6 separate regions of the Homo sapiens genome follow, and regions 1, 2, 3, 5 and 6 are each reported to be linked to region 4. The links are microRNA targets in miRTarBase. Many come from high-throughput screens and were not tested one by one. Region 4 holds a microRNA gene; each other region holds the end of a gene's coding sequence.

Region 1 (4,092 bases), not on the chromosome of region 4:
TTGAACCTCAGATGAGTGCCCTGGGTTTTATGACCTGGGGGTTAGAAGGGGAGGTACTACATGACTCCTTGGGCTAAAGCATTGAAGGACGTCCTGTCTTTAGGGAGGGACTGGAACAGAACTTGAGCTGTCCTTGGCCATTCATTTGCTATCCCAGGATGTTACATTCCCAGCACATTCTACAGTTACTCTTGAAAACTACAGGCAAGACAGTGAGACAGAGCTATCCTGCAACTACCCACCAATCTGACCAGATATTTTGTCTTCTTTATGCTTTTAAACTATCATCTTATTTCAGGCTTTGGACTATAATGTAAAATTTTATGAATAGCTGCTATTCAGAAAAATCATTTTGTATTTCTATGTCCCATATTCCTCTTTTTACCTGTTTGTTCACTGAAGTACTGTTATATAACTTCAAGTAAAATTTACTTTTCTGTCTCTTTTTTATCTTTTCTAGTGGACAGTTTCATAAAGCATAACATGAGTAGAAGAATCTACTGCCAATAACTGTTTATTATCTGCAATCAAGTGGGCTTCATCAATTTAATTTCTTCTCTTTGAGTAAATGAAGATTCAGACTTTGTAATATTATTGCCCTTAAGTGCAATGCTAAAAAAACGTTGATTTTCAAGCTTAGAGAATGGCTAGACTTTTCATTAAATACTGATTTTCCTACATTTGCTCTTCTGCAGTTAGTGGGTGATTTGCTATTTTTCTTAGTAGTTAAAAAATGGAACTAAATAGTGAATATACATACACTGCATGTAAACATTCTGCATATACCTCTAAGATTAAAATTCGCAGTTGTCTTTTCATCCTTTATAAAATGATCTAACTACTTATATTTGTGCTGCATCGCGTTACATCTGTTTTTATTTCACTATGAAGATGTTTGATTAAACTTATGGACTTAGTGCCTTTAAACTGATCATCAGGGAGAATCTTGAAAAAATCATTTGAAGGGCTGATGTGAAGGAGCACTGTAAATTTTTATAACTTAGTAATGAGTATTCTTAGGCAGATGTAAAATTTTTTCCAATTTATTTTTATTTATGTAGCTTATAAAATTAACATACCCTGTTTTACTTTATGATAAAGGATTTTTTGTTTGCTGAATTTAAAATTATATATTAGTGATACCATCAGAGGGCAGTGATGTTCTATTGTATATTAAATTCAGCTCTGTAAGGATCTTTGTAGTAATTGAATGAGTTAAACTAATAATCTGGATGGGTTATAATGAGTAGTAATATATTTGTCCATATTTCATAAGTAGTGTTAATCTTGTGTACTTATTAGAGAACGATCATAAGATTTATACAGATGTGAAACTGCGAAGGCAAGTATGAATGTATGAAAAAAACATGTAGGTACTGTACTTACAAAAGGTCTACTTCAGATATAAAAATATTAGGTAATTCTATACAATGCATAGTCATAAACCTTAACATTTTTGTTCATTAGAAACATGAATTTTATAGCATTTTTTGTTTCTCCTATATAATACACTGAAATAAAAGAATTTGTGTTAGCTATTAAGGCTGATAGCTCTTTTAAATGGCAAGGCCACATGTTGAGCCCTAAATTAAAATTTGCAGATATTAAGTGCTAATAGAAATTTTAAGTTAAATCGACCAAGTTCACTTGCTTTACACAAAGGAAACTGAGCCACTATCTTCATCTACCCCTCCAACAAAAATTATGTTATACTGCAGTGTATTGTACATGTTAATTTTTAAAAGTTTGAACTATTATATAATACAGGTCTCTTGACTTCTCATGGAAAAATTATTTTTTCTATTATGGTGTGAAATATTGTGTGAATATCTAGGCAAAACATAACAATTTGGCTCAATTTTCTTCTTTAGAGGATTCGTGCTGTTTTTGTTCATAAAGGGTAGTGAAATCATTGAACTATATTTTAGAATGAAAATTTTTGATTTTATTAAAATGATTTTTTCAAGGCAGAAAGTAAAAGGAATGATTGATAGCGGAGTGCATATAGAGCTAGAGCATATCATCCTTGAACTCTGCAAATCCTTTCTTCCATTTTAATATAGCAAGAACAATTTTGTCTTTACTACATCTTAAAGAATTAGAACTTGGGTTGGTGTAAGTGACTTACTTCCAGGGAATCATGCCCTATTTCTACCAGCAGGTCATACCCAAATGTCACACTATCTATTGTTAACCATGAATGATATTCAGATCTATTACTTTTCGTGAAAAGTGGAACATGTTACTTCCAACCATGGCCTGTCACCGTGAGTGTGATCAGCTTTCTCCAAAACCACATGGGTCGCAGGAGCTAAGGGGTGGTACCCAAATGTTAGGAACAGTGTTAGGAAAGGGCAAGGGAAAAGAAGTGACTGGATGTCTTATGAGAAACCGGTAAATGACTAAAAAAAAAAGCAAATGACTAAAAACATGACTAAAAAATTATATATATATATAATATATATATTATATATGTGTGTATATATATACACATAATATCTGCAAATTCTAATTTATATATGTGTGTGTATATACACACACACACATGCACATACACACATACGTCCAGACATCTCCCTCATAAAATAACCATCAGTTTCTATGAAAACCTTAAGTGGAAGCCAATTTCCCATAGTAAATAATTTAGGAGAAAATTATAATGCTTAAAATGTTGCTCAAACCCCTGACCTATTACTAAACTATAATTGGAACAGTAAAATGCATATATGTAACTATCATATCATGATTTAAAATTGCTTAAACCATTGCTGCTTAATACTAATCAAACTTAACGGCTGCTAACAAAAGTTGTGAATTATTACACGGCCTCTTTGTAACGTGCTGCATGTTTTTTAAAACATCTCTGTGTTTCTGTTTGTTCCACTGCTGGTATTTGGAATGTAATTTAACAGTTCTCACACATGGTTTGGTTATAAATTCTGTATTGCCTTTTAGGGATATAAATATACATTTTTTTCTATGTAAAAATTAGCTTTAGCTGTCTCTTTAACAAAATTTTATCTTTACTACATCCTAAATACTTAGAACCTGAGTTGGTGGTTAGGGAAACCTCAGGAACATTTTAATCACATTGGGATTCAGAAGAGCAACAGAACCAAAGGTTGTTTGGTGTGTTCATACAATCCCTGGATTTATAGGTGGATTTTCTATAAAGGAAAAATGATGTAATTAGTATCCTGTTTTTTCCTAAAGAAATAATACTATCATAAAAATTCTGTCTATCCTTTGTACCCCAGGAAAATGGACATGAACTTTGAATTTTCCCTTTCTCCAAATGTTTGACTTTTTATTTTCACTGATAAGCATTATGCTATGTTCTTAGAAGACAAAAGCAGCTCTTGCCAGTTTTGAATAATTTCTGCATGAATAGACCAGTAAGAGGTAAGTAGCCATGACTGCCTATATGTGTTGAGACATAAGGTATATTTCTTTAACATCTCCAAGCAAGCATTTCAAATTCTCTTAACTACTAAACATGCTCTAAGCTAATTCAAATATAGTATTGTGGCTTTTTTCTTCAATTTTCTCAAAAGCTACAGACACAAGGCATTTGTATGTATAACAGACTTTGATGAAGTTTTGGTTCCAGTAACTCAAAACACTAAGTTTCCCATTTGATATGGCTTTTTATTGTTCTAGTCTCCCTCTTCTAGTTATGCTTCATCTTGCAAATATTGACTTTGAATGTGATAACTATTGCCTACAAATTAAGTATTCATACATTACTCCTGTGGATATCATACTTTTTTGTTATTATATCCTGAATTGCATTGGCTTTTTTTGGTTTTGTTTTGTTTTTTGAGATGGAGTTTCACTCTTGTTGCCCAGGTTGGAGTGCAATGGCACAATCTCAGCTCACCGCAACCTCTGCCTCCCAGGTTCAAGTGATTCTCCTGCCTCAGCCTCCCTAGTAGCTGGGATTGCAGGCATGTGCCACCACGCCTGACTAATTTTGTGTTTTTAGTAGAGACAGGGTTTCTCCACGTTGGTCAGGCTGGTCTCGAACTCCTGACCTCAGGTGATCCCTGCCGCCTTGGCCTCCCAAAGTGCTGGGATTACAGGCATGAGCCA
Region 2 (4,092 bases), not on the chromosome of region 4:
CAAGTTTGGTAGAGCAAACCGGTGAATGATACTCTCATGCAAAACTGAACAGATATGCAAACATATGTATGTGGTTCAGCTTGGGTTGCATGGGTTCAGACTTTGCAATGTGTAGTTTAATAGGTAATTACCCTTAACGCTTTTGCAGGGAACCCAACTACCTTGAAGAAACTTTAATTTTTTTGTGCTTCTAATTTGTCTCCATGTCACATAGCCAAAATATAGAATGTTCAAGTGTTTTCTCCTCAAAAGTATAATTACTAGAATATACTGGTTTTTAAAATAAGTTTATTTTTATAAATTTGTTTCCAGAATCCACATTCATCTCAATGGAAGGATCCTGCCTTAAGTCAACTTATTTGTTTTTGCCGGGAAAGTCGCTACATGGATCAATGGGTTCCAGTGATTAATCTCCCTGAACGGTGATGGCATCTGAATGAAAATAACTGAACCAAATTGCACTGAAGTTTTTGAAATACCTTTGTAGTTACTCAAGCAGTTACTCCCTACACTGATGCAAGGATTACAGAAACTGATGCCAAGGGGCTGAGTGAGTTCAACTACATGTTCTGGGGGCCCGGAGATAGATGACTTTGCAGATGGAAAGAGGTGAAAATGAAGAAGGAAGCTGTGTTGAAACAGAAAAATAAGTCAAAAGGAACAAAAATTACAAAGAACCATGCAGGAAGGAAAACTATGTATTAATTTAGAATGGTTGAGTTACATTAAAATAAACCAAATATGTTAAAGTTTAAGTGTGCAGCCATAGTTTGGGTATTTTTGGTTTATATGCCCTCAAGTAAAAGAAAAGCCGAAAGGGTTAATCATATTTGAAAACCATATTTTATTGTATTTTGATGAGATATTAAATTCTCAAAGTTTTATTATAAATTCTACTAAGTTATTTTATGACATGAAAAGTTATTTATGCTATAAATTTTTTGAAACACAATACCTACAATAAACTGGTATGAATAATTGCATCATTTCTTATTGTGTGCTCTTGTTTCTTTTAACTTGTACTTTATTAAACACATTTTACTGACGCTTTGCTGTATACCAGGTCTATAATCAGAAAGCAGGTGATTTAAAGGAGTTGGAGTTGTCAGGAAAAAGGGATGGTTAGAGATTCAGCTTGCAAAATTTGAATAATTAAAGATAAATGATATTAGCGCCGTAATAAGATTATACACAAAATGTTGAGGAGGCAGAGAGGACAGAGTGACTAAAGTTACCTACCAGTTTTTACTGAAGAGAGATCATTTTATGTTGGTCTTAGTGAGTTTTATTTCCCTAGTTACAGAGGGCAAAGGGATATTGCTAGCAGCTGCATTAGTTTGTGCAAAGGTGTGGAGGCCTGAAAGACCACAACCAGGTCAGTAAAAACAGAGTGATTGTGTGTGTGCCTCTGGTGTAGAAAGATAAGGGAGCAGCGGGGCTGAAAAGGAAGGTGGGGATTAGGCCCAGGCTGTGAAGGCATTCTGTGTTACCCTTATGCATTTGGGCTTCCTTCTGTAAACTTCAGGCAGATAGCGGAGCCCCTGAAGGAAGTGGCATGATCAGTGTTCTAGGAAAGTAACACCGGGGTCTGTGAAAGATGATTATTGGGATGAGCAGCTGTAGGTGACAAGGCCAGTTAGGAAGTGACTAAGAATCCAAGGTTGTGCATTTTGCAGAACCATTTTTACAGAGCAAACAGGGAAGTGGCCAGGCAAGGTTTTTTGCTGCCCCTAGTCTCTTCCTAAAGCTTTGTGCTTTCCAGCTGAACATTTCTATGGTTCTGAGGGGTCTGCTTAAATTCTATCAGATGGAATAGATGGCAGAGAAGAAAAGCAAAAGAAAAGTCTTCAGTAGAACAATCATTTTTAGTTAGAACAGTCACTTGATAATTAACTCCAACAATCTTGTAGGCATAGACCAAAGAAAGCAAAAATGCTTATGGAGGCAAGGCCTAGCCTTGCTTTTGTCCACAGGAATTTTCTTATCCTATTTCTCAAACCGTCCCCCTTATGGCTCCCCTGCCATCTGTCTTTCATCCTAGTCATGACTACATACAATCAGAAGAAAGGGTAGGGAAAACCCACTAATAGCAACAAAAAGCTCCAAGTTTCTGCATATATTATGAATACATAGCTCCATGAGCCCTTCACCTTGCAAATGACTCTCTTTTCCCACATCTGCTAGAATTGTGGGGTTTTAGGCCTTGTTTAGGCTTCTTGTATCTTTTCACAAGTGACTTTTTCTACATCTGCTAGAAATGTGGGTTTTTAGGCTTATTTAGGCTTCTTGTATCTTTTTAAAATCCAGTGCCCACTCCAAAACATAACTGGTATTTAATATTTGTTTCTTACATTACCAAAAGATTGAGAGCAGTGAGTTTTAAATAGCAAGGTGTTTTGCCTTCCCATTGAAGTAAGGTTTTTTTCAGCCCTTTTTCACAACGATTTGGTAAGAACCCTCTTGCAGAGATGAATGAATTAAAGTGGAGACACACAGTGGATAAAGCTGGTTTGCTTAGTGGAACGAGCACAGTAGCAGCTAGCCTTGATTAGTCCTTCTTCATCCTGTTTTACTCATGTAAAATGGAGATAAGATTACCTATCTTGCAGACTTGTGGCCTCTCCTACAACTCTGCAACCTCCCTCAAGGCAGGTAATGTCTGGTTCATTATTGTAGCCCAGTAGTGGACACAAGTGCCAGCAAGCAGTAGGTGCTGAATTAATATTTATTGAATAAATGAATGATTAGAAATAATGAATACAAACTACCTGGCACATGATAGGTGCTCAATGGAGTGTGGCTGTTTCTAAAACCCAGGTGATAGCAATAGGAAAACTTAAGGCATCAGAGAGATCTGTGTTATGACATGTACATCTATATAACTATGTTTTTCAAAAAGAATTTTTGATCTTTATTCTAAATTCATAATGCTTAGAGATATGTAATAGTACTTATACATTCTTCAGATTGTTTTGAGGAAAATCTCAACAATTACTGTAATGCCATTTGGTTTCTTCAAAAATTTTAAACTCTTGTTTTTCTTTCCTGATTGAGCATAACATAAAGTTAACACAGCATTGAAAAACCCAATCATGAAACAGTTAATTTTAAACAAATATAAAATTACCTGGATGGCTTCTATCTCTAATTGATGCAAATATTCTTTAGTCGTTGCCTTAAAAACCATTAAATGTACTTATTGCAAGCTACGTTACAACAAGAACAGAAATCCCCTCATCTACCTAAGGTGTATTGAATGTTGAAAAGTGGAAAATACCTAATTTTTCCACTGGCAACTTCACCTCAGTGTCATAAATAGCATTGCTTCCTCCTTTCCACACTTAACCTAGGATCTTGGTAAGTTAAACTTTTATAATGAAAGGACCCATGAAAGTAGCTAATCTCCTATAATACATACCTTAGTTCCCAAATAAAGAAAAAAGGGTCATTTTTTAGGAAAGAATTATTTGTATACTGTCAATTGAAATATTTCCAAAGCATGTTTTGAGATGCCTTACTGGAGCCCTTGTGAAATAATTGCTTAATTTTCATTTATATAGGTAGAATTTTATTCTTTGATATGTGGTAAAAGACTGAAATTTGGGAGATAAGTTCTCTTCAAATGAACAAAACTCAGTGGCATGATTTGACACCAAGTAAGTATCCCTCAAAGAAGTGAATACTTTTTTTCTTTTTAACAATACTTTGGTAAACATAAGAACCTCTGTGAAAAGGTCGTATTCATGAAAACCACCAAGAAATATTAAGTGAGTGCTTACTGTGGACAAGGGACTATGCTGGCTATATTGAAGTCTACCAAAAAAAAAAAAAAAAAAAATCAGACACACACTCTGGCCTCAAGGACTTCGTATCACTACATAAATACAAAACAGAAAATTACCAGCAACGTAAGAAAGGCCCAGAGAACTGTTCTGGAAGTTCAAAGGATAGAAATCTCCAGAAGGCATATAGGAATGGAATGGAGAAAAAGGTTGTAAACTCTTTGTTCATAAGCTAGCATCGTATTTTGCAAACAGCACAAAAATGTGATCGATTGATTGAATATTGAATATAATTTTGCTAGGTGCTATG
Region 3 (4,092 bases), not on the chromosome of region 4:
CTGAAATATTTTTTATTTGTGTTTAAAAAATTCATTTTCAGGGCTGGGGGAGGGATAGCATTAGGAGAAATACCTAATGTAAATGACGAGTTAACGGGTGCAGCAAACCAACATGGCACATGTATACCTATGTAACAAATCTGCACGTTGGGCACATGTACACTAGAACTTAAAGTATAATAATAAAAAAAGAAAAAAAGAAAGTTAGTTTTCAGTTATGGAAGGTTGGGCTTGTAATCTCAACTACTTGGGACGCTGAGGCAGGAGGATCATTTGAGCCCCGCAGTTTGAGGCTGTAGTAAGTTATGACTGCACCACTGCACTCCAGCCTGGGTAACAGTGAGACTCTATCTCTTAAAAAAATTATGCTGAGAATATTTTCTGAGTTGTCACATGGGTCTTGTGATAAACTAATAATGCAAACTTTTATTTTTCATTATATATAAATATTGGATTTATCCCAACCAAACTAGTTTGCAGGGAACCTCTGCCTTTATTTCACGGCTGGAGAATGAGATACAAAAGATGTCAATTTCCATCGTAAGAACTTTCCACAGTAGTGTTCTTTGGACATTCTCTCCCTTGTATTAGGCTCCTCAGAAATCTATCTCCAGACTGAAACCAGCACATTCTGATGAGATCATAGCTTAGTACTCAGAAAAATCACTACTCAGTGGAATTCTTGAAATTTTGAAACAACTGATTTTAGCATACAGAATTTCAAAAAGAACATACATTACAGCCAGAAACGATTGTTTGCTCATGAATTTTGATTATTGGCAGACACATTTGCTGTAGCGGCAACTGTGCAAGAGTTCATTTTAACAGAATAATATGTTCTGAAATACTCTTTTATAATCAATATAAAATTCTAGAATGTTAATTCCTATAGCAAGAACTTGTGACATTATAAAATGTGGTTTACCATAGAAAGTCGCTAGATTTCCCATGTTTTCTTAAAATTAAATGTACTAAAAAATCCAAATGTAATAGAAAAATGCAATCACATAGGTGCTTTAAACAGACATTTCTGAATAACACTGCATTCTAACTCATGAGTACAAAGAAATGTGTATGCTATTTATACATTTTCTTAGTGTTCCCTACCTTTGGACTCCAATCATTTTAACGTATCCGTATACTGGAGATTTGATCACAGTATATGGCACTTCACAATAACATTCCATGTCCTAATAATGTGAAATGCCTGTATACAATCTGAGTATATTGTTTAGTCAGAAAACATCAAAATTAAGGATATAGGACATGGAATGTCTGTTAAGTGCTGAGTTTTTCTGACTAGAGTTTAATCTAGCCAGTGTTAATGTGGAAGCTGTATGCTTTTTTCATGGGCATGTTCGAATTTTTTCTTTCAAAATGTTTCTCAACTTTTTGATGTGACACTTTGTTTTCTCCCAAGTCACTCTAAGGGTTCTATCAACATCTTTCTTTGAAAACAGCCCAAAAACATATTTTTAAAATGAAAAAAAAATTCACAAGAGAATCAAGATTTGGTTTTAATCTATTATTTACATATTTGTAAACTGCTGTTAAAATGCTCTCAAAAATGTTATTTAGGAAGGCACAATTTGGTAGCATCAATTTTTTATTTATAGTTTTTTCTAAACAAGATCCGAAGAAACTTCCACTTTAATTTTCCCCTTGGAGTACTTAAAGTACTTCAAGGTTCAATGTCAAATGCAGATAAAACCCCTTCATTTTCAAACTTACTAAGTGTTAACAATACATTTGATAGTGAGCAGAATATGAAAGTACAGATGTTATCAAAAGAGGAAATTCTTATGATACTAGGTTCAGAGATTAAAGAATTTGAAACAAGGGCTTTCATGACTGGGGAAAATCAAAGCTTTTCTTGAAGGGAGTGGGCTTTTAATACTCGAGCTATTAATTAAATGCAGAAATGAGATAACATAGTTATCCTGAACATCAAAAAAGCAACAGCTAATACAGCTAATGCATTATAAATAATGTATTTCATAACTGAATTAGTAAAGCATGGTTACCACTCTAGGCTAGACACTAATCAGTATAACCATTTGTAGTTTCTAATTTTAAAAAGTTTGGCTTCATATTTAAATTTCATTTTACTATATATATATTACATATATACACACTGTTGTCTGTAACTCAAACTATAATGCTTGTCTGTAAAAAGAAGTTTTTTATTTCAGAGATGCTTAAAAGTCCCACTACTCAACCTTTTTCCTGTTTATAAAAACCAACAATTTTGAAATTACTTCTAGTGTAGAAATGCTCAATGATTCATCCAAAATTTCAAGCCCATATCAGTAGGTAGTTTCTCATAAAGTAATGTGCTGTATTTTCTAATATCATATGGTCAAATACCCTGTTCATTTATGAACATTTTTCATGGGCAAGAGTAACTGAAGACAATGGGATCAAGTTGAATATGTTGCTACTCACTTTGAATACTAAATTGTGCTTGCATCCTAAAAATTAAAATGAGCTGCAGTAAGAATTAGAATATAAACTGTGTTCATTTGTACCATACACTAAAAACTAAAATCCTAAAAATAAGAATGAAAATACCTTACTTGTTCATTGAAAAATGAAAGATGAGAAGCAATAACAATTGGTGACGATTTATTTTTATCTTTTGTTAAAGCTCTGAAATTGTAGTAAATCGCTAACTAAATTGAGGTAGAGGTAGACCCTAATGTTACTCCTTCCATGTGTCAAGTCTCTCACCTTAGGTCTCTAAGGTCACCTATAACTTAAGTCTCTCACCCTTAACTTAAATACATTTTCCCTCTTAGTACATAAGCATGATTCATTTTGGAATGTGTTGTCATGAAAGAAAAATTAAGATCATTCAAATGGTACTTTAAAAATTCTGAACTCCTAGCTAAAAAAATTCTCTTATAAAAATGTACACAAGGGCCGGGTGCGGTGGCTCACGCCTGTAATCCCAACACTTTGGGAGGCCGAGGTGGGTGGATCACCTGAGGTCAGGAGTTCAAGACCAGCCTGGCCAACGTGGCGAAACCCCATTTCTACTAAAAATACAAAAATTAGCCAGACATGTTGGCGCACGCCTGTAATCCCAGCTACTCGGGAAGCTGAGGCAGGAGAATCGCTTAAACCCAGGGGGCGGAGGTTGCAGTGAGCCGAGATTGTGCCATTGCACTCCAGCCTGGGCAACAAGAGTGAAACTCCATCTCAAAAAAACAAAAACAAAAACAAAAACAAACAAACAAAAAACACGCTAATTCAATCTTCCTTTTCTGAGAGTCTCAATTTGGAGAAAAATAATTCAATTTTCTATTTTGCTAGTAAGAAATATATTTGTTTCTCCTCCAATTGTAGAGGAAAACAAGGAAAGAGAAGATGTATGATGCAAACATCAACAGTTTCATAACGAAGACATCAGGAACATAACTAGGAGGGCTGAACATTTTACCATTCCTCCTTGAAGTTTACATATAAGCTTTGATTCATATTAAATTTTCTGCTAAAATAACTACTTCCTTTTCAGACTTCAATTCCATTAAACACACATCTATTTCCATTTTAAATCACATACAAGTGCTATGTGATCAGAGGGATGGGAAACACTAGGTAAGGCCTGGTGGGTGGTAACTTCTTCATGACTAGGTAATGGAATCACCTGTTCAACCTCTAAAGCATTTAAGTCAATGAAAATGTAATCTAGACATCCATGAAAGCCACCAACATAATTTGTGTAAGCAGGTTCACCACAAGCACTTTTCAGCTTGAAGAAATGTGTAAGAGACATATTGCATCTTTCCTCCTCCCCATTGGAAGCCCAGTCTTCATGATCCTCTGGAATGCTGCCATTGATGACAAAATGATACATTCCTGTTGATGGTGTACTATTAAAGTCCCCACAAAATATAACTGGTATGCCAGGATACAGATCACATGAAACATGTCTTATGTGAGCCAAGGCTACTGCCATTTGAATGAGGCGAATATACCCACCTATGAATATAAAAAACATTAATGTAAGTATTTTTTAAAGTTGTCTTTAAGTTAAAAAAGAAAAACTACACAAATTACAGTCTCTGGGTGACGTTCAAGATATGCATT
Region 4 (4,092 bases):
TGGTCTTATTTTAAATATTTCTGAGTGGTCTGAGGGAGGATATGGGCAATATTGAAGTGTCCACATTTATACATACTGTTAAATGCTTTGGGGATGTGAAATGCTAATAGGAACACGCTAGCATGTGAGAAGGCACCAGGAGTGGGCTAATTGGCAGAAAGGAACAGTGTATAGGCAAGAGCAGTGAAATAACTTTAGGGGAAAATAGTATGTTAAGCTTATTAAATAACAGCCTCATAGAGACATTGGGTCCCAAAACAGTGATCTCAGTATAACTGTCAACAACTTGCTGATGTTATCAGCCCTATTTGCTGGTCAGAGACAAAAAAGCCAGTAAAAACCTAGGTATTATTAAGAAAGGTATGAGGCACAGAAAAATGCCATCTTATCTTTGTATAAAACCATCTGAACCAAATAACTATTACAGTAATAATCTTGCCTCAAGGAGTCTGTTACTATCACTCACATGATTTTGAAAAGGGAGTGGGCAGAGTGTGTTATCTCTCTGTTTCATTTTTCTTGTTTATAATACATAGGTGAATTAGATATTCTCAAAGGTCTTGGAGGGGTCTAATTCTGGTTTCCTGAAACTGAATGTTATTTCTAGTTTAGAGAATCTGTTTAATTATGTTTATTAAATAAACTTTTCTAACTTATTCCTACTCTGATCTGTATATTATCTATTTTGTATTTAATAACATTCTAACTTTTTTTTTCCAGTGAAGGATGAGGATTATTGGATTTAGAAGTGCCAAATGAGCTATTACTTACTGCTTTTTGCTATCCGGTTACACTGGGTTAATCCAGTTAGTTGTAAGCTCCCATTTTTCAGCATTTTGCTAGCTGTAGATATTAAACCAGGCTCATGTGGGTAGTAGGGTGGGGAGGTTAAGAGGAGTATAAGCAAAAAGGAAAAAAAAAAGCTCATATTTTAGAGGAGGGGATTGAGAAGTTCCTTTATTGGAAGTCTGTGCATGGAAGTCCCATTTTACATCATGCCAGTGTCTAGTTCCCAATTCCGTCTATGGCCACGGGTTAGGGAAAGCCTGAATATTTGAAATAACCGAAAAGCATTTAACCTTTGATTTCTATAATTTGTTCCTCACCTCTCTTGATGTTACAGCCAGCAGCAGCCTGGAGCAGCACCCCCTGGGAAGAAATTTTACATCGGCCATTATAATACAACCTGATAAGTGTTATAGCACTTATCAGATTGTATTGTAATTGTCTGTGTATATGCCTGTCTCTCTTCCTGTTATCAGTTAGACTGTGAGCTCCTTGAGGGCAAGGAAGGTGTCTTCATCTCCAGAGCCCAGCCTGGCACATTAGTAGGCCTCAGTAAATGTTTATTAGATGAATAAATGAATGACTCATCAGCAAACATTTATTGTGTGCCTGCTAAAGTGAGCTCCACAGGCTCTGGATTGTCAGCTGTTTCTTCAAAAAGCATGTGGTCAGAAATTTGATATTTCTGTATATATCTTCCTAAGAGTTTCTCATGAGACAATGCCATTTTTGTGTTTGGATTTCAGTCCTTGATATTTACAGATGTTGCAACTGTTGCTATTGCTGACACTTGCTTTCTTGGTGGGACTTGAGTGATAACTGTTAGATTGGGGCCTCATCCTCAGGGCCCAGGTAATCATCCAAATAGTATTCTTAGATAGGACTTTGCATTTTTCTTTCTTTTTTTTTTTTTTTTAAGGGACAGGTTCTCACTCTGTTGCCCAGGCTGGAGTGCAATGGTGCGAACACGGGTCACTGCAGCCTCGAACTCCTAGGCTCAGGTGATCTTCCACCTCAGCATTCTGAGTTAGGACTATAGGTGTGTGCCACCACCCCTGGCTAATGTTTGTATTTTTCGTAGAGAAGGGGTCTCGTTATGGTGCCCAGGCTGTTCTTGAACTCCTGGACTCAAGCGATCTACCTCCCTCAGCCTCCCAGAGTGCTGGGATTACAGGTGTGAGCCACTGCACCCAACCAGACTCCATATTCTAAACCAAGGGTGGGCAAACTTTATTGCCCATGGGCTACCTGTTTTTGTAAATACCATTCTATATTGGAACACAGCCATGTTCATTCATCGATGTTTTACCTGGGGCCGCTTTTGCGGCCCAGTGGCACAATTAAGTAGCTATTAGGTTGGTGCAAAAGTAGTTGCTGTTTTTGCCATTAAATATATTGGAGACATTGTGGCCCACAAAGCCTTTGTAGAAAAAGATCTGTGCCCACTCTGGATCATCACTCGACAGTGATGGTTTCATTTCTCATTCCATTCACCAGACCAGAAATTCATATTTATTTACTTCATTTGTCATTGCTTGTGACAAGTCTTTTTCCTCTTTTACAGATAAGCCAGCTAAGACATGTTTTAAAGTAGAAGATTATAAGACCTCCCCCAGGGTCCTGCAGTCAGTCAGTTATACCCTGCCCTTCAACATCAAGCTTTGAACCTCTACTCTAGAAATACCTTTTATTATATTCAAACTTGAAGCACGTGGACATAGCATGCTTTGGTGCCTTCGTCCTTGCCCCCCTCCTTCCTACACAGTTCTTTGCAATGAGAATATGGGAAATAAGGACTTAATGTGAGATAAGGCAGAAAGGTAAGCTGAGGCAAATGTTTAGAGGGTCCCTAACACTAATTTTTAAATGAAGAAGTGGGGTGTCTGAAATACTCATTTATTTAGATGTATACAGATAGTGAGCCTAGACTTCCAAGAGCTTAGAGCCCCTCCCCTTGTGCCTCCCCAACTTTACATGTACTATCTTGGTAACCTGCCTATGAATACATGTTGATTCATTTCACTTCATTAAAAAGTCGGAGAGCTCAAAGTCATATTTGAGAAAGCTAAATCTAAAACAAAATGGAGGAAACACTGAATAGGTTCATCTCGTTGGATAGGATCATCCTAGGAATAAAATATAATAGAAGGAAAGGTCTTACAGCCATATTTTTAAAGCTGCTTGCTGGATTTTTCCCAAAATTGTATTGTGAAAGTTGTCAAACATACATACAGAAAAGTTGAAAGAATTGTACGGTGAAAAGCCATGTACCCAACACCTAGATTTTATAATTAACATTTAACTATACAGTCATGTGTTGCTTAAAGACAGGATATGTTCTGAGTAATGGATCATTAAGTCATTTTGTTGTTGTGTGAACATCATAGGGGAGTGTACTTATACAAACCTAGATGGTATAGCTTACTACACACCTAGGCTATATGGTATAGCCTATTCCTCCTAGGCTACAAACCTGTACAGCATGTTGCTGTATTGAATACTGTAGGCATTTGGAATACAGTGGTAAGTATTTGTATATCCAAACATATCTAACATAGAAAAGGTACAGTAAAAACGTGGTGTTATTATCTTATGGGACCACCATTGTATATGCGCCTGTGACTGAAATGTTACTATAAGATTCAGGACTGTTTGTGTTATCACAGTAACTCATCTTTGTTGAATAGGTTTTAAAAATCTGTCTGTCTTCTGTGTTAATGTCATCTGTATCTGACCCATCATGGTGCTGAAAAAGCTTCTTTTCATTCTTATTTTTGTCTTCTAAGTCAGCATGAATACCAGCACAGCCCAACTATGTGTAAGCAGATCTGTGCAGGAATGAGAGTCCCAGGGAGAGAATCCACGTTGTTTCTGAAAGAAAATGGCTATAGCTCACTGTTGTTTACTGGAAATAGTAGGGGGAAGGAAAGATGGAAGTCCAGGTCCAGTGTCATATACTGCCCTGCACCTTACTCACTTCTCTGCCTTTAGGGTAGGTGGTTTTCTGAGCAGCTTCTGCTTGGTTCTCTCCTTTAAGGCTTGCTAAAGGAGAAACAACAATGTCATATTGAAATGCCAATGAGGCAATATTTAGCATTAGAATAACTTTGGAATTCTAGCAAATGGAATTTTAATTTGGGCTACTGTCTAATAGTATTCTTTGAGCCTTTTCTGTTAGCAACAGCTGCAGTTTCAATTAGGAAGCACCATGAAATTTTGTTTATCTTTATCCATGGACATGATAATGGTAAATGTTACCTGTTTGTGTCTCTCTCCTTTGATTTAAACTCAAGGGTAGAGATGTGT
Region 5 (4,092 bases), not on the chromosome of region 4:
ACAGTTACCCTGAGGAACTCAAGACTTTATCCATACTTTATCCAGTTTCACATTTGTCCAGAGAAAACACTGGGCGACCAGGTTCCCAAGCTTAATAAATATATATACAAAAAATGTCATCTATAATATTTTCTTCAGAAAGCCATTAGTGCAAATATAATTATATCAATAAAAAATAAAGCAAAAATATATTTCAAGTATAAAAAGCACCATGCTCAGAAACAATACTACCTAAACGGTGCCACTACACAACAGTCAAAATATAGTCGAACCTATCACTGTGACTCTCAAATATATGATTAATTCATTGTATTTTTGGTAAAATTCTTCATTCAGCTTTGCAGGATGATTCATAATCATAAGAAGTATATGTTTAGATTATTGTAAGTTTCTTTAAAAATAGACTCTTTGCTTTGACTTTTAATTTACACAATTTAAAGTATGTACAACATAGGCAGAAAATGAGCACTGGCCCGCAGACCATTACGCAGGTTGAGCATCACTTACTGAAATGCTTGGGACCAGAAGTGTTTCAGATTTCAGACTTTTTTTTGGATTTCGGATATTTACAGATACCTAATGAGGTATCTTGGGCATGGACCCAAGTCTAAACATGAAATTCATGTTTCATATATAACTACACACACTGCCTGAAGGTAATTTTATACAATATTTTTAGTAGTTTGTGCATGAAACAAAGTTTGTGTTAAGTACTTGTATGTGGAATTTTCTACTTGTAGTATCAGGTCAGCATTCAGAAAGTTTCAGATTTTGGAGCAATTTGGATTCTGGATTTTTGGATTAGGAATGCTCAACCTGTATTAGCTTCTTTTTAGTTAAGTTGACTATGTTTGAGATTCCCAGCTTTTCACAATGACAAATACCTCCCATTTAAAACTGCATGCAAATACATACTTTAAATTTATGCATTTGAAAAAAAAGCGACTTTCCTCTGTGCTGGGGTTGCTGTTGGCTCTAGTGCCAAATAATCAGAATTAATTCTTAGTAATTATGTTGCTTTGCTCACTTAGCATAATTTCTTCAATGGAGTACTGAATAGCTATATGCTGAATGGACGAAAAGCAGGGAAGGACGAGGAAAGGAGGAACAGAAGGAGTCTGTCCGAGGGTTGTGGTTACAATGCCATGGAGGAATAGGAGGAGTCTGTCCGAGGGTTGTGGTTACAATGCCATGGAGGAATAGGAGTCTGTCCGAGGGTTGTGGTTACAATGCCATGGAGGAATAGGAGGAGTCTGTCCGAGGGTTGTGGTTACAATGCCATGGAGGAATAGGAGGAGTCTGTCCGAGGGTTGTGGTTACAATGCCATGGAGGAATAGGAGGAGTCTGTCCGAGGGTTGTGGTTACAATGCCATGGAGGAGTAGGAGGAGTCTGTCCGAGGGTTGTGGTTACAATGCCATGGAGGAGTAGGAGGAGTCTGTCCGAGGGTTGTGGTTACAATGCCATGGAGGAGTAGGAGGAGTCTGTCCGAGGGTTGTGGTTACAATGCCATGGAGGAATAGGAGGAGTCTGTCCGAGGGTTGTGGTTACAATGCCATGGAGGAATAGGAGGAGTCTGTCCGAGGGTTGTGGTTAGAATGCCATAGGACTTCATTAGCTTGAGAGAAAGAATGGGCATCGCCTATCATTCATGAATATATTTTTTCTTTTTTCTTTTCATATTCTTGTTAAACCTCATCTAGCCATTAAAAATTACTAAATGGGGCTGGTAAGCTCTAGTACCAGTGTAAAATTGCTTCTGGGGACCGGAATCTATGTAGTAACAGGAGGAGTGTCAAATGCAGAAGGTAAAGGATATTTAAAGCGAAGGCAATCTTCCAGCTTCTGTGGACTGAGTCTTACTTAAAAGTGGTACAGTGGACGCTACTGGATAGGCTCTACACCAAACTTATACCTTGCTATTAGTACACAATTCAGACCATCCTTCTTAAACATAAAACCATTTTCAGATGTTAGAAATTCTTCTGCAACAATTTCTTAACCCATTTTAAAAAACTGCATACCCGTCTTTACCAGAATTTCTTTTTATCTTCATCGGTCACAAAGGAATAGTTGTGTTTTTGTTGTTTCACAGTTGTCTTAAGTATTATCTAAAACAATACAATTATTTTTTTTCTGTTTGCATGTCTTCCATGTTTTTACAGGGCAGAGTATTTTACTCTCTCGGCTTCCACATTTTTTCATGTCATTATTAAACTCATGGAGAATACAACCAGAAGCTGAGCTCTGAAGAGGGATGAATACAGAGGGCTACCAGCACAGTGATAGCAGTTCTGGAAGCTGGGCTCTGAGGAGGGATGAATAGAGGGCTACCAGCACACTGACAGCAGTTCTGCCGTAAACTGCCACATAGCTGGCAAAAAGGGCAAGCACGGTTAAATCATAAGATTTAATGAAACATTATTTAAAAAAATTCTTTAGAACAATGGGAACAGTGAATTAAGTTTACTATATACCAGCCATTAATTTTTTTTTTTTTAAGATACAGGGTCTAACTCTATCGTGCAGGCTGGAATACAGTGGTGCAATCATAGCTCACTGCAGCCTTGAACTCCTGGGCTCAAGCGATCCTCCTGCCTCAGCCTCCCAAGTAGCTGGAACCATGCCTGGCTGCCATTAAATTTAAAATAGGTATAATAATGATATGTAGAAATCCCAATTCCATTATTTTCTATAACTCAAAGGACAATTTATACTTTTGAGGACAAGATCTCCAATTCTAATCTTGCAATAATTGGCTGTTGTTTAAGTGACTGCAGTATATGGATGATGAACTTTCCCATTGTTGTATGTTAATAAAAATGTTGAGGTATGTAATCACTCTGAAAATTCCACCCATTATCCTATTTTCAAAGGAAAACTTTGGGAAGATTACAAACCCTGAAAAATGAAGACTTGGTGGCTTGCAGTTCCTTCTCCTTCTCCAAGATGAGGTGGTTGGGTTGCTGAAGAAGGTGGTTGGTTTGCTGATGAAGGTGGTTGGGTTGCAGATGAAGGTGTTGAGTTGCTGATGAAAGTGGTTGGGTTGCAGATGAAAGTGGTTGGTTTGCTGATGAGGTGGTTGGGTTGCTGATGAAGGTGGCTGGGTTGCTGATGAGGTGGTTGGGTTGCTGATGAAGGTGGCTGGGTTGCTGACGAGGTGGTTGGGTTGCTGACGAGGTGGTTGGGTTGCTGACGAGGTGGTTGGGTTGCTGATGAAGGTGGTTGGGTTGCTGATGAAGGTGGTTGGGTTGCTGATGAGGACAGGCTGCTGTGAAGTTCTGCTTCAAGGTCTGATGGTCGTCAATTCTTCCAAGCCAAAGCCAGGAATGCCACTTCTACCATCTGCATAGGTTGGCACTCACTCAAACTTTGTGCTTTGTTCACAAGAACATAACATAAAAGAATATCTTGAAGATCCACTTTTCCATTCCTAGTGCCATATACACAGAAGAAATCCAGCCAGCAGAGGAAACAGATTGCCTAGCAGAAGCCAGAGGGTGACCACCAGGCTCGAGGAACAGGAACAAAGATCTAGAGTTGAAAACAAAAAACTGACTTTCTATAAACAATTTTGGGATAAATCATACCAATTAAATATTGACAGATGAAGAGCAGTGATTATTAAAAAGTAAACAAGGACCACCTTGAGAGCTAAATCAAGAGCAAAACCCAGGTATAAAAAAGTTTTTGTTTCTTTTTTAATGGAGGAAAAATATATATGGAGGAAGAAATGATGTATCCACTATGTCAAGGTTAAAAAATGGTATCCAAAAAAAATTGCCTTGGGGTAGTACCCCAGCAAAGATAAAGATCTTGGTTATTCTGAGATGGGGTGAAGAACTTTCTTCTTTTATTCTTTCTTTGTACCTTCTAAGTAGGGTGACCATATAATTTATCAACACAAACTAGTACATTTTGAGAATGCAAGGGTGAGTACTATTAATAATGACAACAGGCAGACGGACTGTGAGGATGCAAGGGAGAGGACCATCAATAATGACAACAGGCAGACGGACTGTGAGGAGGCAAGGGAGAGGAGCATCAATAACGACAACAGGCAGACAGACTGTGAGGAGGCAAGGGACAGGAC
Region 6 (4,092 bases), not on the chromosome of region 4:
AAATGCTGGAGAACAATTTTAAAAAACACTTATGAAAAAATGCTGGACACTTGACTCACTGCCAGAACAAAGAAGAGCCAATTCAACATCCCAACTTTACGGGCACGTAAGATTCACAAGCTGAACCAAGAGATTTAGGAAGAAAAAAAAAAACATGGTAATTATAAGGGGTCTGTGAATAAGTTAAACTAAAAGCTGCTTTCACAATCTACAAATTAGGCCTCCAAATCAAAATCATTTATATTAACCAAAAGGTTATCTAATTTTGCCCATATTGGTGTCAAATCTCATCCCCACTCCCTGCCAAAAAAGAGCAACCTAGTTCAGCTGTCGGATTTTTATATAACACTCTCTTTATGTGAGCTAGACTCCAGAGTCCTCACACTTCACAGAAATTCTTTCTTAAAACTGGCACTGCAGCCTTTCATTTACAATATCCCTTTTTAAGTGCAAAGTCGAGGGCTGTGAAAAGAACCACGGTGGGGGGTCTGGGTTACTCAGGTCTTATCCAGTGAAAAATTAGTTCTCTGAATCTTTGCAAAACATCTCCTTCACTGGTGCAATCTAAGAAAGGGAAATGGGAAACTTGTTTACATGATGAAAAATATAATTAAGAGATTGACTCTTTATGGCTTATGGCCGCTCTGACAGACTCGTATTTCTCAAAACTTACATTCAGAAGACACTGTCTGCCACTATTTGAAATCTTTAGAGCTAATCATAAGTTAATGACTAGTCTAAGAGGCCACTTGGTGGGGAAAACAAATCCACTGATATTCTGGTCTTAATCCCTGAACAGAAAATGTGCACACATCCATTAACTATTTGGAACCAATCTGGTGCTATACAACTCTTCTGTGTCCTCTTGACCCCATTTTGTCCTCCTAAAGGGACAACTGTTAGTTCCTTTAACCCACTCAAGCAAGGAGTGGAGGGCAGAGGTTTATCTAAAAGAGCAGTGATGTTGGTTCTTGGAGCCCCCTTAAAAGGGCCATCTGAGCTCTCTGCCTAACGTCCCATTGTCTACATAGATTCCGTTTTGGAAGGATGGTTTCCCAGAGAAAGAGTCCTGCTGTTTGGAGGTCGAGAGAGAGTGACGTCAAGCAAGCGTAGTAAGGGAGAAAATAAAATCCTCAAAGCACTAAGGACAGGGGCTAGAAGTTTCCTTTATCTTCTCCCTCCTCATTTAGAAGAGCACGTTTCCTACTCTACGTCTGGGAGCCTTGAAAACCCAGTCTGGTTCAGTTGCAGCAGGTACATGGGTTGGCTCATTCTCTCACTTCTGCCCCTAAATTTGAAACCTTTCCTTCCTCATTGCCCAAATGCTACTTGAGTAAATCTTATCTTTTTGCCTTCTTTGGGCCCTATAGGCTGCCTATGCCTGATAATGACCTGACAGTTTAAAAGAGAGGGATGGGTCAGTGGAGGCCCATGGTTACCAGACACCAGCCAGGCCCAACAGGATCTGGGCTGCAGACAGTGGAGCAGAGAGAAGCAGAAGCAGAACCTACTAGCAACCCTCCTCCTGCACAGCTCAGACAGTCTCCGCCCTGGCTAATGGGAGGGACAACAAGAACCCTCCAGACAACAGGGCTGCCAGGACTACGGGGGCCCGATCCAGCTTCCACTCACAGTGAGAAGATGAACTTGGCCGCTTTCCAGGCTGGAACCGTCTCCAGCATAGCAGAGAGAGGGGAATCACTCACAGGGAGCCCCAAATGGGCCTAGACAGACAAGGCAGGGACCGACTTATGAGGTATGACGACAAATGTTAATAACATCAAATCCTGTACCTGATATGGAATGGAAGCCAGGGTGTGGGCTTAATCCCTCTAAGTACAGGCTCCAATAACAATGCAGATGACGTGTGTGGGGGTGGGTGGTGGGGGGAGAGAGAGAAGGAGAGACAGAGAGAGAGAGGGAGAGAGAGAAGCCAAAACCAAAGGCATTTCAGCTGCTAATAAAAATAAAATACAAACTCTATGCACATTTCCTACACAAAATCTTTCCCAAGCTCGGAAAAAACACTTGAGGGTTTTCTACATTACACAATAAAAAGGCAATTTCCACTTCTTATTTATATGAAAGAGGAAAGATTTTTTTAAACTACAAAAGTTACTTTTAACCATAAAAAAAAAACAAAAAAACTAAAAGTAGGTTGGGGATTAGGTTGTATCTCTTTGGGCGAGCTGCAAAGTAGCCAAACCTGACTACCAAAGGTAAGAATGTGGATACACAAATGTCACCTACCCCACCCTGCTTTGTTGAGGTAGGGGACGAGGAGGACAAAGTGGAAGTGTGGAGGGAGGAGGGGGCCAGGCAGGTGTGGAAAGCCAGCAAGGTTGTCTGAAATGTCTGTTGTCAGAACAGGGCTTCCCCTTCTCTGTCATGAAAACAGGATAGAAAAAGCTTGTGGCCAGGGAGCCCGGGGCCTGAGTGAGGCATTGTGTCATCTCTCGCTCTGAGCTCATCCTAGAGGCAGACACATACATGCTCAAAGGAACTTCTTTTTCAATGGTAATTATTCCAGTTAAAAGAAAAAACAAAGGAAAGGAAACAAAACATTGTCTGGAAAGACACGGGATCCCAGAGCCTAGGGTGCCCTCCTAGCTCTGAAGGCTCGCAGAAAACTTGGCTAGCTTGAAAGGAGGCATCGATCTCTTCAGTGTGGTTGCTAGCAGGAAGCCTCGGCAAGCTAATAAATACTATTTACAACTGGGGAGGAGAAGCTGGGGAGGCAGAACTATGGATGTGTGGGGAACCAGGTTGTGGGAGGTCCTAAAAGCGACAAGATGGGGCAGGTTTGCCTGGAGTAGAAAAGCCTGATCCCCTCAGGCATTGCACTTGCGGCCTGAGAATATGAACGAGAGCCCTCGCCTGCCAGTGCTGCTGCAGGAGACGAGACGATCCAGCGAGGGCTCCCAGGGGGCAGAGTGGGCGGAGGGCTGCTGTCGGGGGTGTTCACACCAGAGACCCCAGTGCGAGCAACGGAGGACACGGGTCAGTGCTTTGCCAAATACCAACAGGCATTATGGCATTTTTGTGGCCAGAGTCTGGGGTCTTGACTGAACAAGAGCCATCTCGTCTCCAAAGCGGGGGGTTACACCTCACAGGTGCACATTAGGCAATATCTTTTTGGCACTATTGGTGGAAACAAGCCTGCTTGTCCCACCTCCAACCCCTAAAATAATTTCCTATGGCAGTAAGAGAAAGGAAGGGAGGGATGCAGGCTCCCTTCTGCACAGGAGGGGCATGGACCAGGGGGAGATGCTCTCTCACTGCAGGGAAGTCCCAGGCTGGTCTCCAATCTGAAGCCACTAATGCTTGCCCATGTCTCCATGAAGATCCAGTGGCAAAGAGGAAAAGCTGATGACAAAGGTGGTTTGGGGATGTAAAAGTAGAGTTAAGGGAAAGGGAGGGGGTGCAGGCAGCCTCTTTAGAAAGTGGTGTTCACTCTTCTGTCGAGTTCTACAACTTTTAGTGTTTCATTCCCCTCCAGTTTGGCGCTGACCCTGTGAAGGCATTAAAAGGAAAACGAAGTATTAGTCACCAGCTGTTAGCTACAATTCTCATGCTTTGTAGCGTGATGCAATCATTCAGGGGTTGCAACTTGGTGAGACGGCCTGGGCATGTTTCTTGTCCTTTTCTCTCCTAGTAGCAATTCTCTGTTTCCAAAGTCCCCTGCTACCAGCCTCTCCACTAGTCCACATTCCTACCTTTATCTACACCCAAGGCATCCCAACCCTACTAAGGATAATCATGGTGGCTTGATATTGATCTGCTATGAGATGCATTAAATTATTCTATTTACTTAGGATGTTTAGCCCTATGCTAAACTCAGGGAAGGAGAAAATAAAATGATAAGAGCTGATCCTTGGCCTAGAAGAGCTAATAATCCAGATAAAGATTTTTAACAATGAGCTAATTTGAAATAATAATAAATCCATAACAGAAAATAAATACATTATTAAATTGTGTAACAACCTGGAAAATTTCTAGGCATTCAGAGGAGGGCTAGGAGGCTTTGTTATCTAGGAGACATCACAGAACAAATGGGATTTGAAGTGGGCCTTGAACAGCTTAGCTGAGAGA

The links. The annotated mature microRNA hsa-miR-374a-5p reads UUAUAAUACAACCUGAUAAGUG and lies in region 4 at 1,175-1,196, shown strand. An mRNA with a match to its seed (bases 2 to 7 or 8) in the 3' UTR can be bound and repressed. Matches are read on the target gene's strand: a 7mer-m8 pairs with bases 2 to 8, a 7mer-A1 pairs with bases 2 to 7 and ends in A, and an 8mer does both.
Region 1: miRTarBase lists SVIP as a target of hsa-miR-374a-5p. Seed matches in the 3' UTR shown: 7mer-m8 at 1,753-1,759, 7mer-m8 at 2,465-2,471, 7mer-A1 at 2,654-2,660 and 7mer-m8 at 3,773-3,779.
Region 2: the mRNA of GADD45A is a reported target of hsa-miR-374a-5p. Seed matches in the 3' UTR shown: 8mer at 883-890.
Region 3: the mRNA of PDE12 is a reported target of hsa-miR-374a-5p. Seed matches in the 3' UTR shown: 7mer-A1 at 853-859 and 7mer-m8 at 176-182.
Region 5: miRTarBase lists LMLN as a target of hsa-miR-374a-5p. Seed matches in the 3' UTR shown: 7mer-m8 at 2,653-2,659 and 7mer-m8 at 122-128.
Region 6: the mRNA of CREB3L2 is a reported target of hsa-miR-374a-5p. The part of its 3' UTR that is shown has no 7-base or 8-base seed match.

Annotation. Positions count from the first base shown.
Region 1 is chr11:22,819,502-22,823,593 of GRCh38, reverse strand. It overlaps SVIP (small VCP interacting protein), which reads left to right. Exons shown (of 4, transcript NM_148893.3): 4 at 461-4,092. The coding sequence ends at 475. Among named protein-coding and RNA genes, the nearest start is that of LINC02718, 7.9 kb to the left of the region's middle.
Region 2 is chr1:67,687,349-67,691,440 of GRCh38, forward strand. GADD45A (growth arrest and DNA damage inducible alpha) reads left to right here. Exons shown (of 4, transcript NM_001924.4): 4 at 313-986. The coding sequence ends at 426. Among named protein-coding and RNA genes, the nearest start is that of GADD45A, 4.2 kb to the left of the region's middle. RefSeq lists an enhancer at 1-23 and a silencer at 2,278-2,572.
Region 3 is chr3:57,559,454-57,563,545 of GRCh38, reverse strand. PDE12 (phosphodiesterase 12) reads right to left here. Exons shown (of 3, transcript NM_177966.7): 3 at 1-3,984. The coding sequence ends at 3,542. Among named protein-coding and RNA genes, the nearest start is that of PDE12, 5.2 kb to the right of the region's middle.
Region 4 is chrX:74,284,429-74,288,520 of GRCh38, reverse strand. It overlaps MIR374A (microRNA 374a), which reads left to right and starts at 1,164; the gene lies at 1,164-1,235. All of the region lies in intron 1 of FTX (FTX transcript, XIST regulator), which reads left to right. MIR545 (microRNA 545) reads left to right here and starts at 1,312; the gene lies at 1,312-1,417. It overlaps LOC124905199 (a long non-coding RNA gene), which reads left to right. Exons shown (of 2, transcript XR_007068266.1): 2 at 1-656.
Region 5 is chr3:198,038,008-198,042,099 of GRCh38, reverse strand. LMLN (leishmanolysin like peptidase) reads right to left here. Exons shown (of 17, transcript NM_001136049.3): 17 at 1-3,533. The coding sequence ends at 3,433. It overlaps LMLN-AS1 (LMLN antisense RNA 1), which reads left to right and starts at 2,633. Exons shown (of 4, transcript NR_046669.1): 1 at 2,633-2,651; 2 at 2,876-2,953; 3 at 3,242-3,352; 4 at 3,437-3,779.
Region 6 is chr7:137,877,040-137,881,131 of GRCh38, forward strand. CREB3L2 (cAMP responsive element binding protein 3 like 2) reads right to left here. Exons shown (of 12, transcript NM_194071.4): 12 at 1-3,512. The coding sequence ends at 3,437. Among named protein-coding and RNA genes, the nearest start is that of DGKI, 32 kb to the left of the region's middle. RefSeq lists enhancers at 1,594-2,325, 2,326-3,059 and a silencer at 2,284-2,578.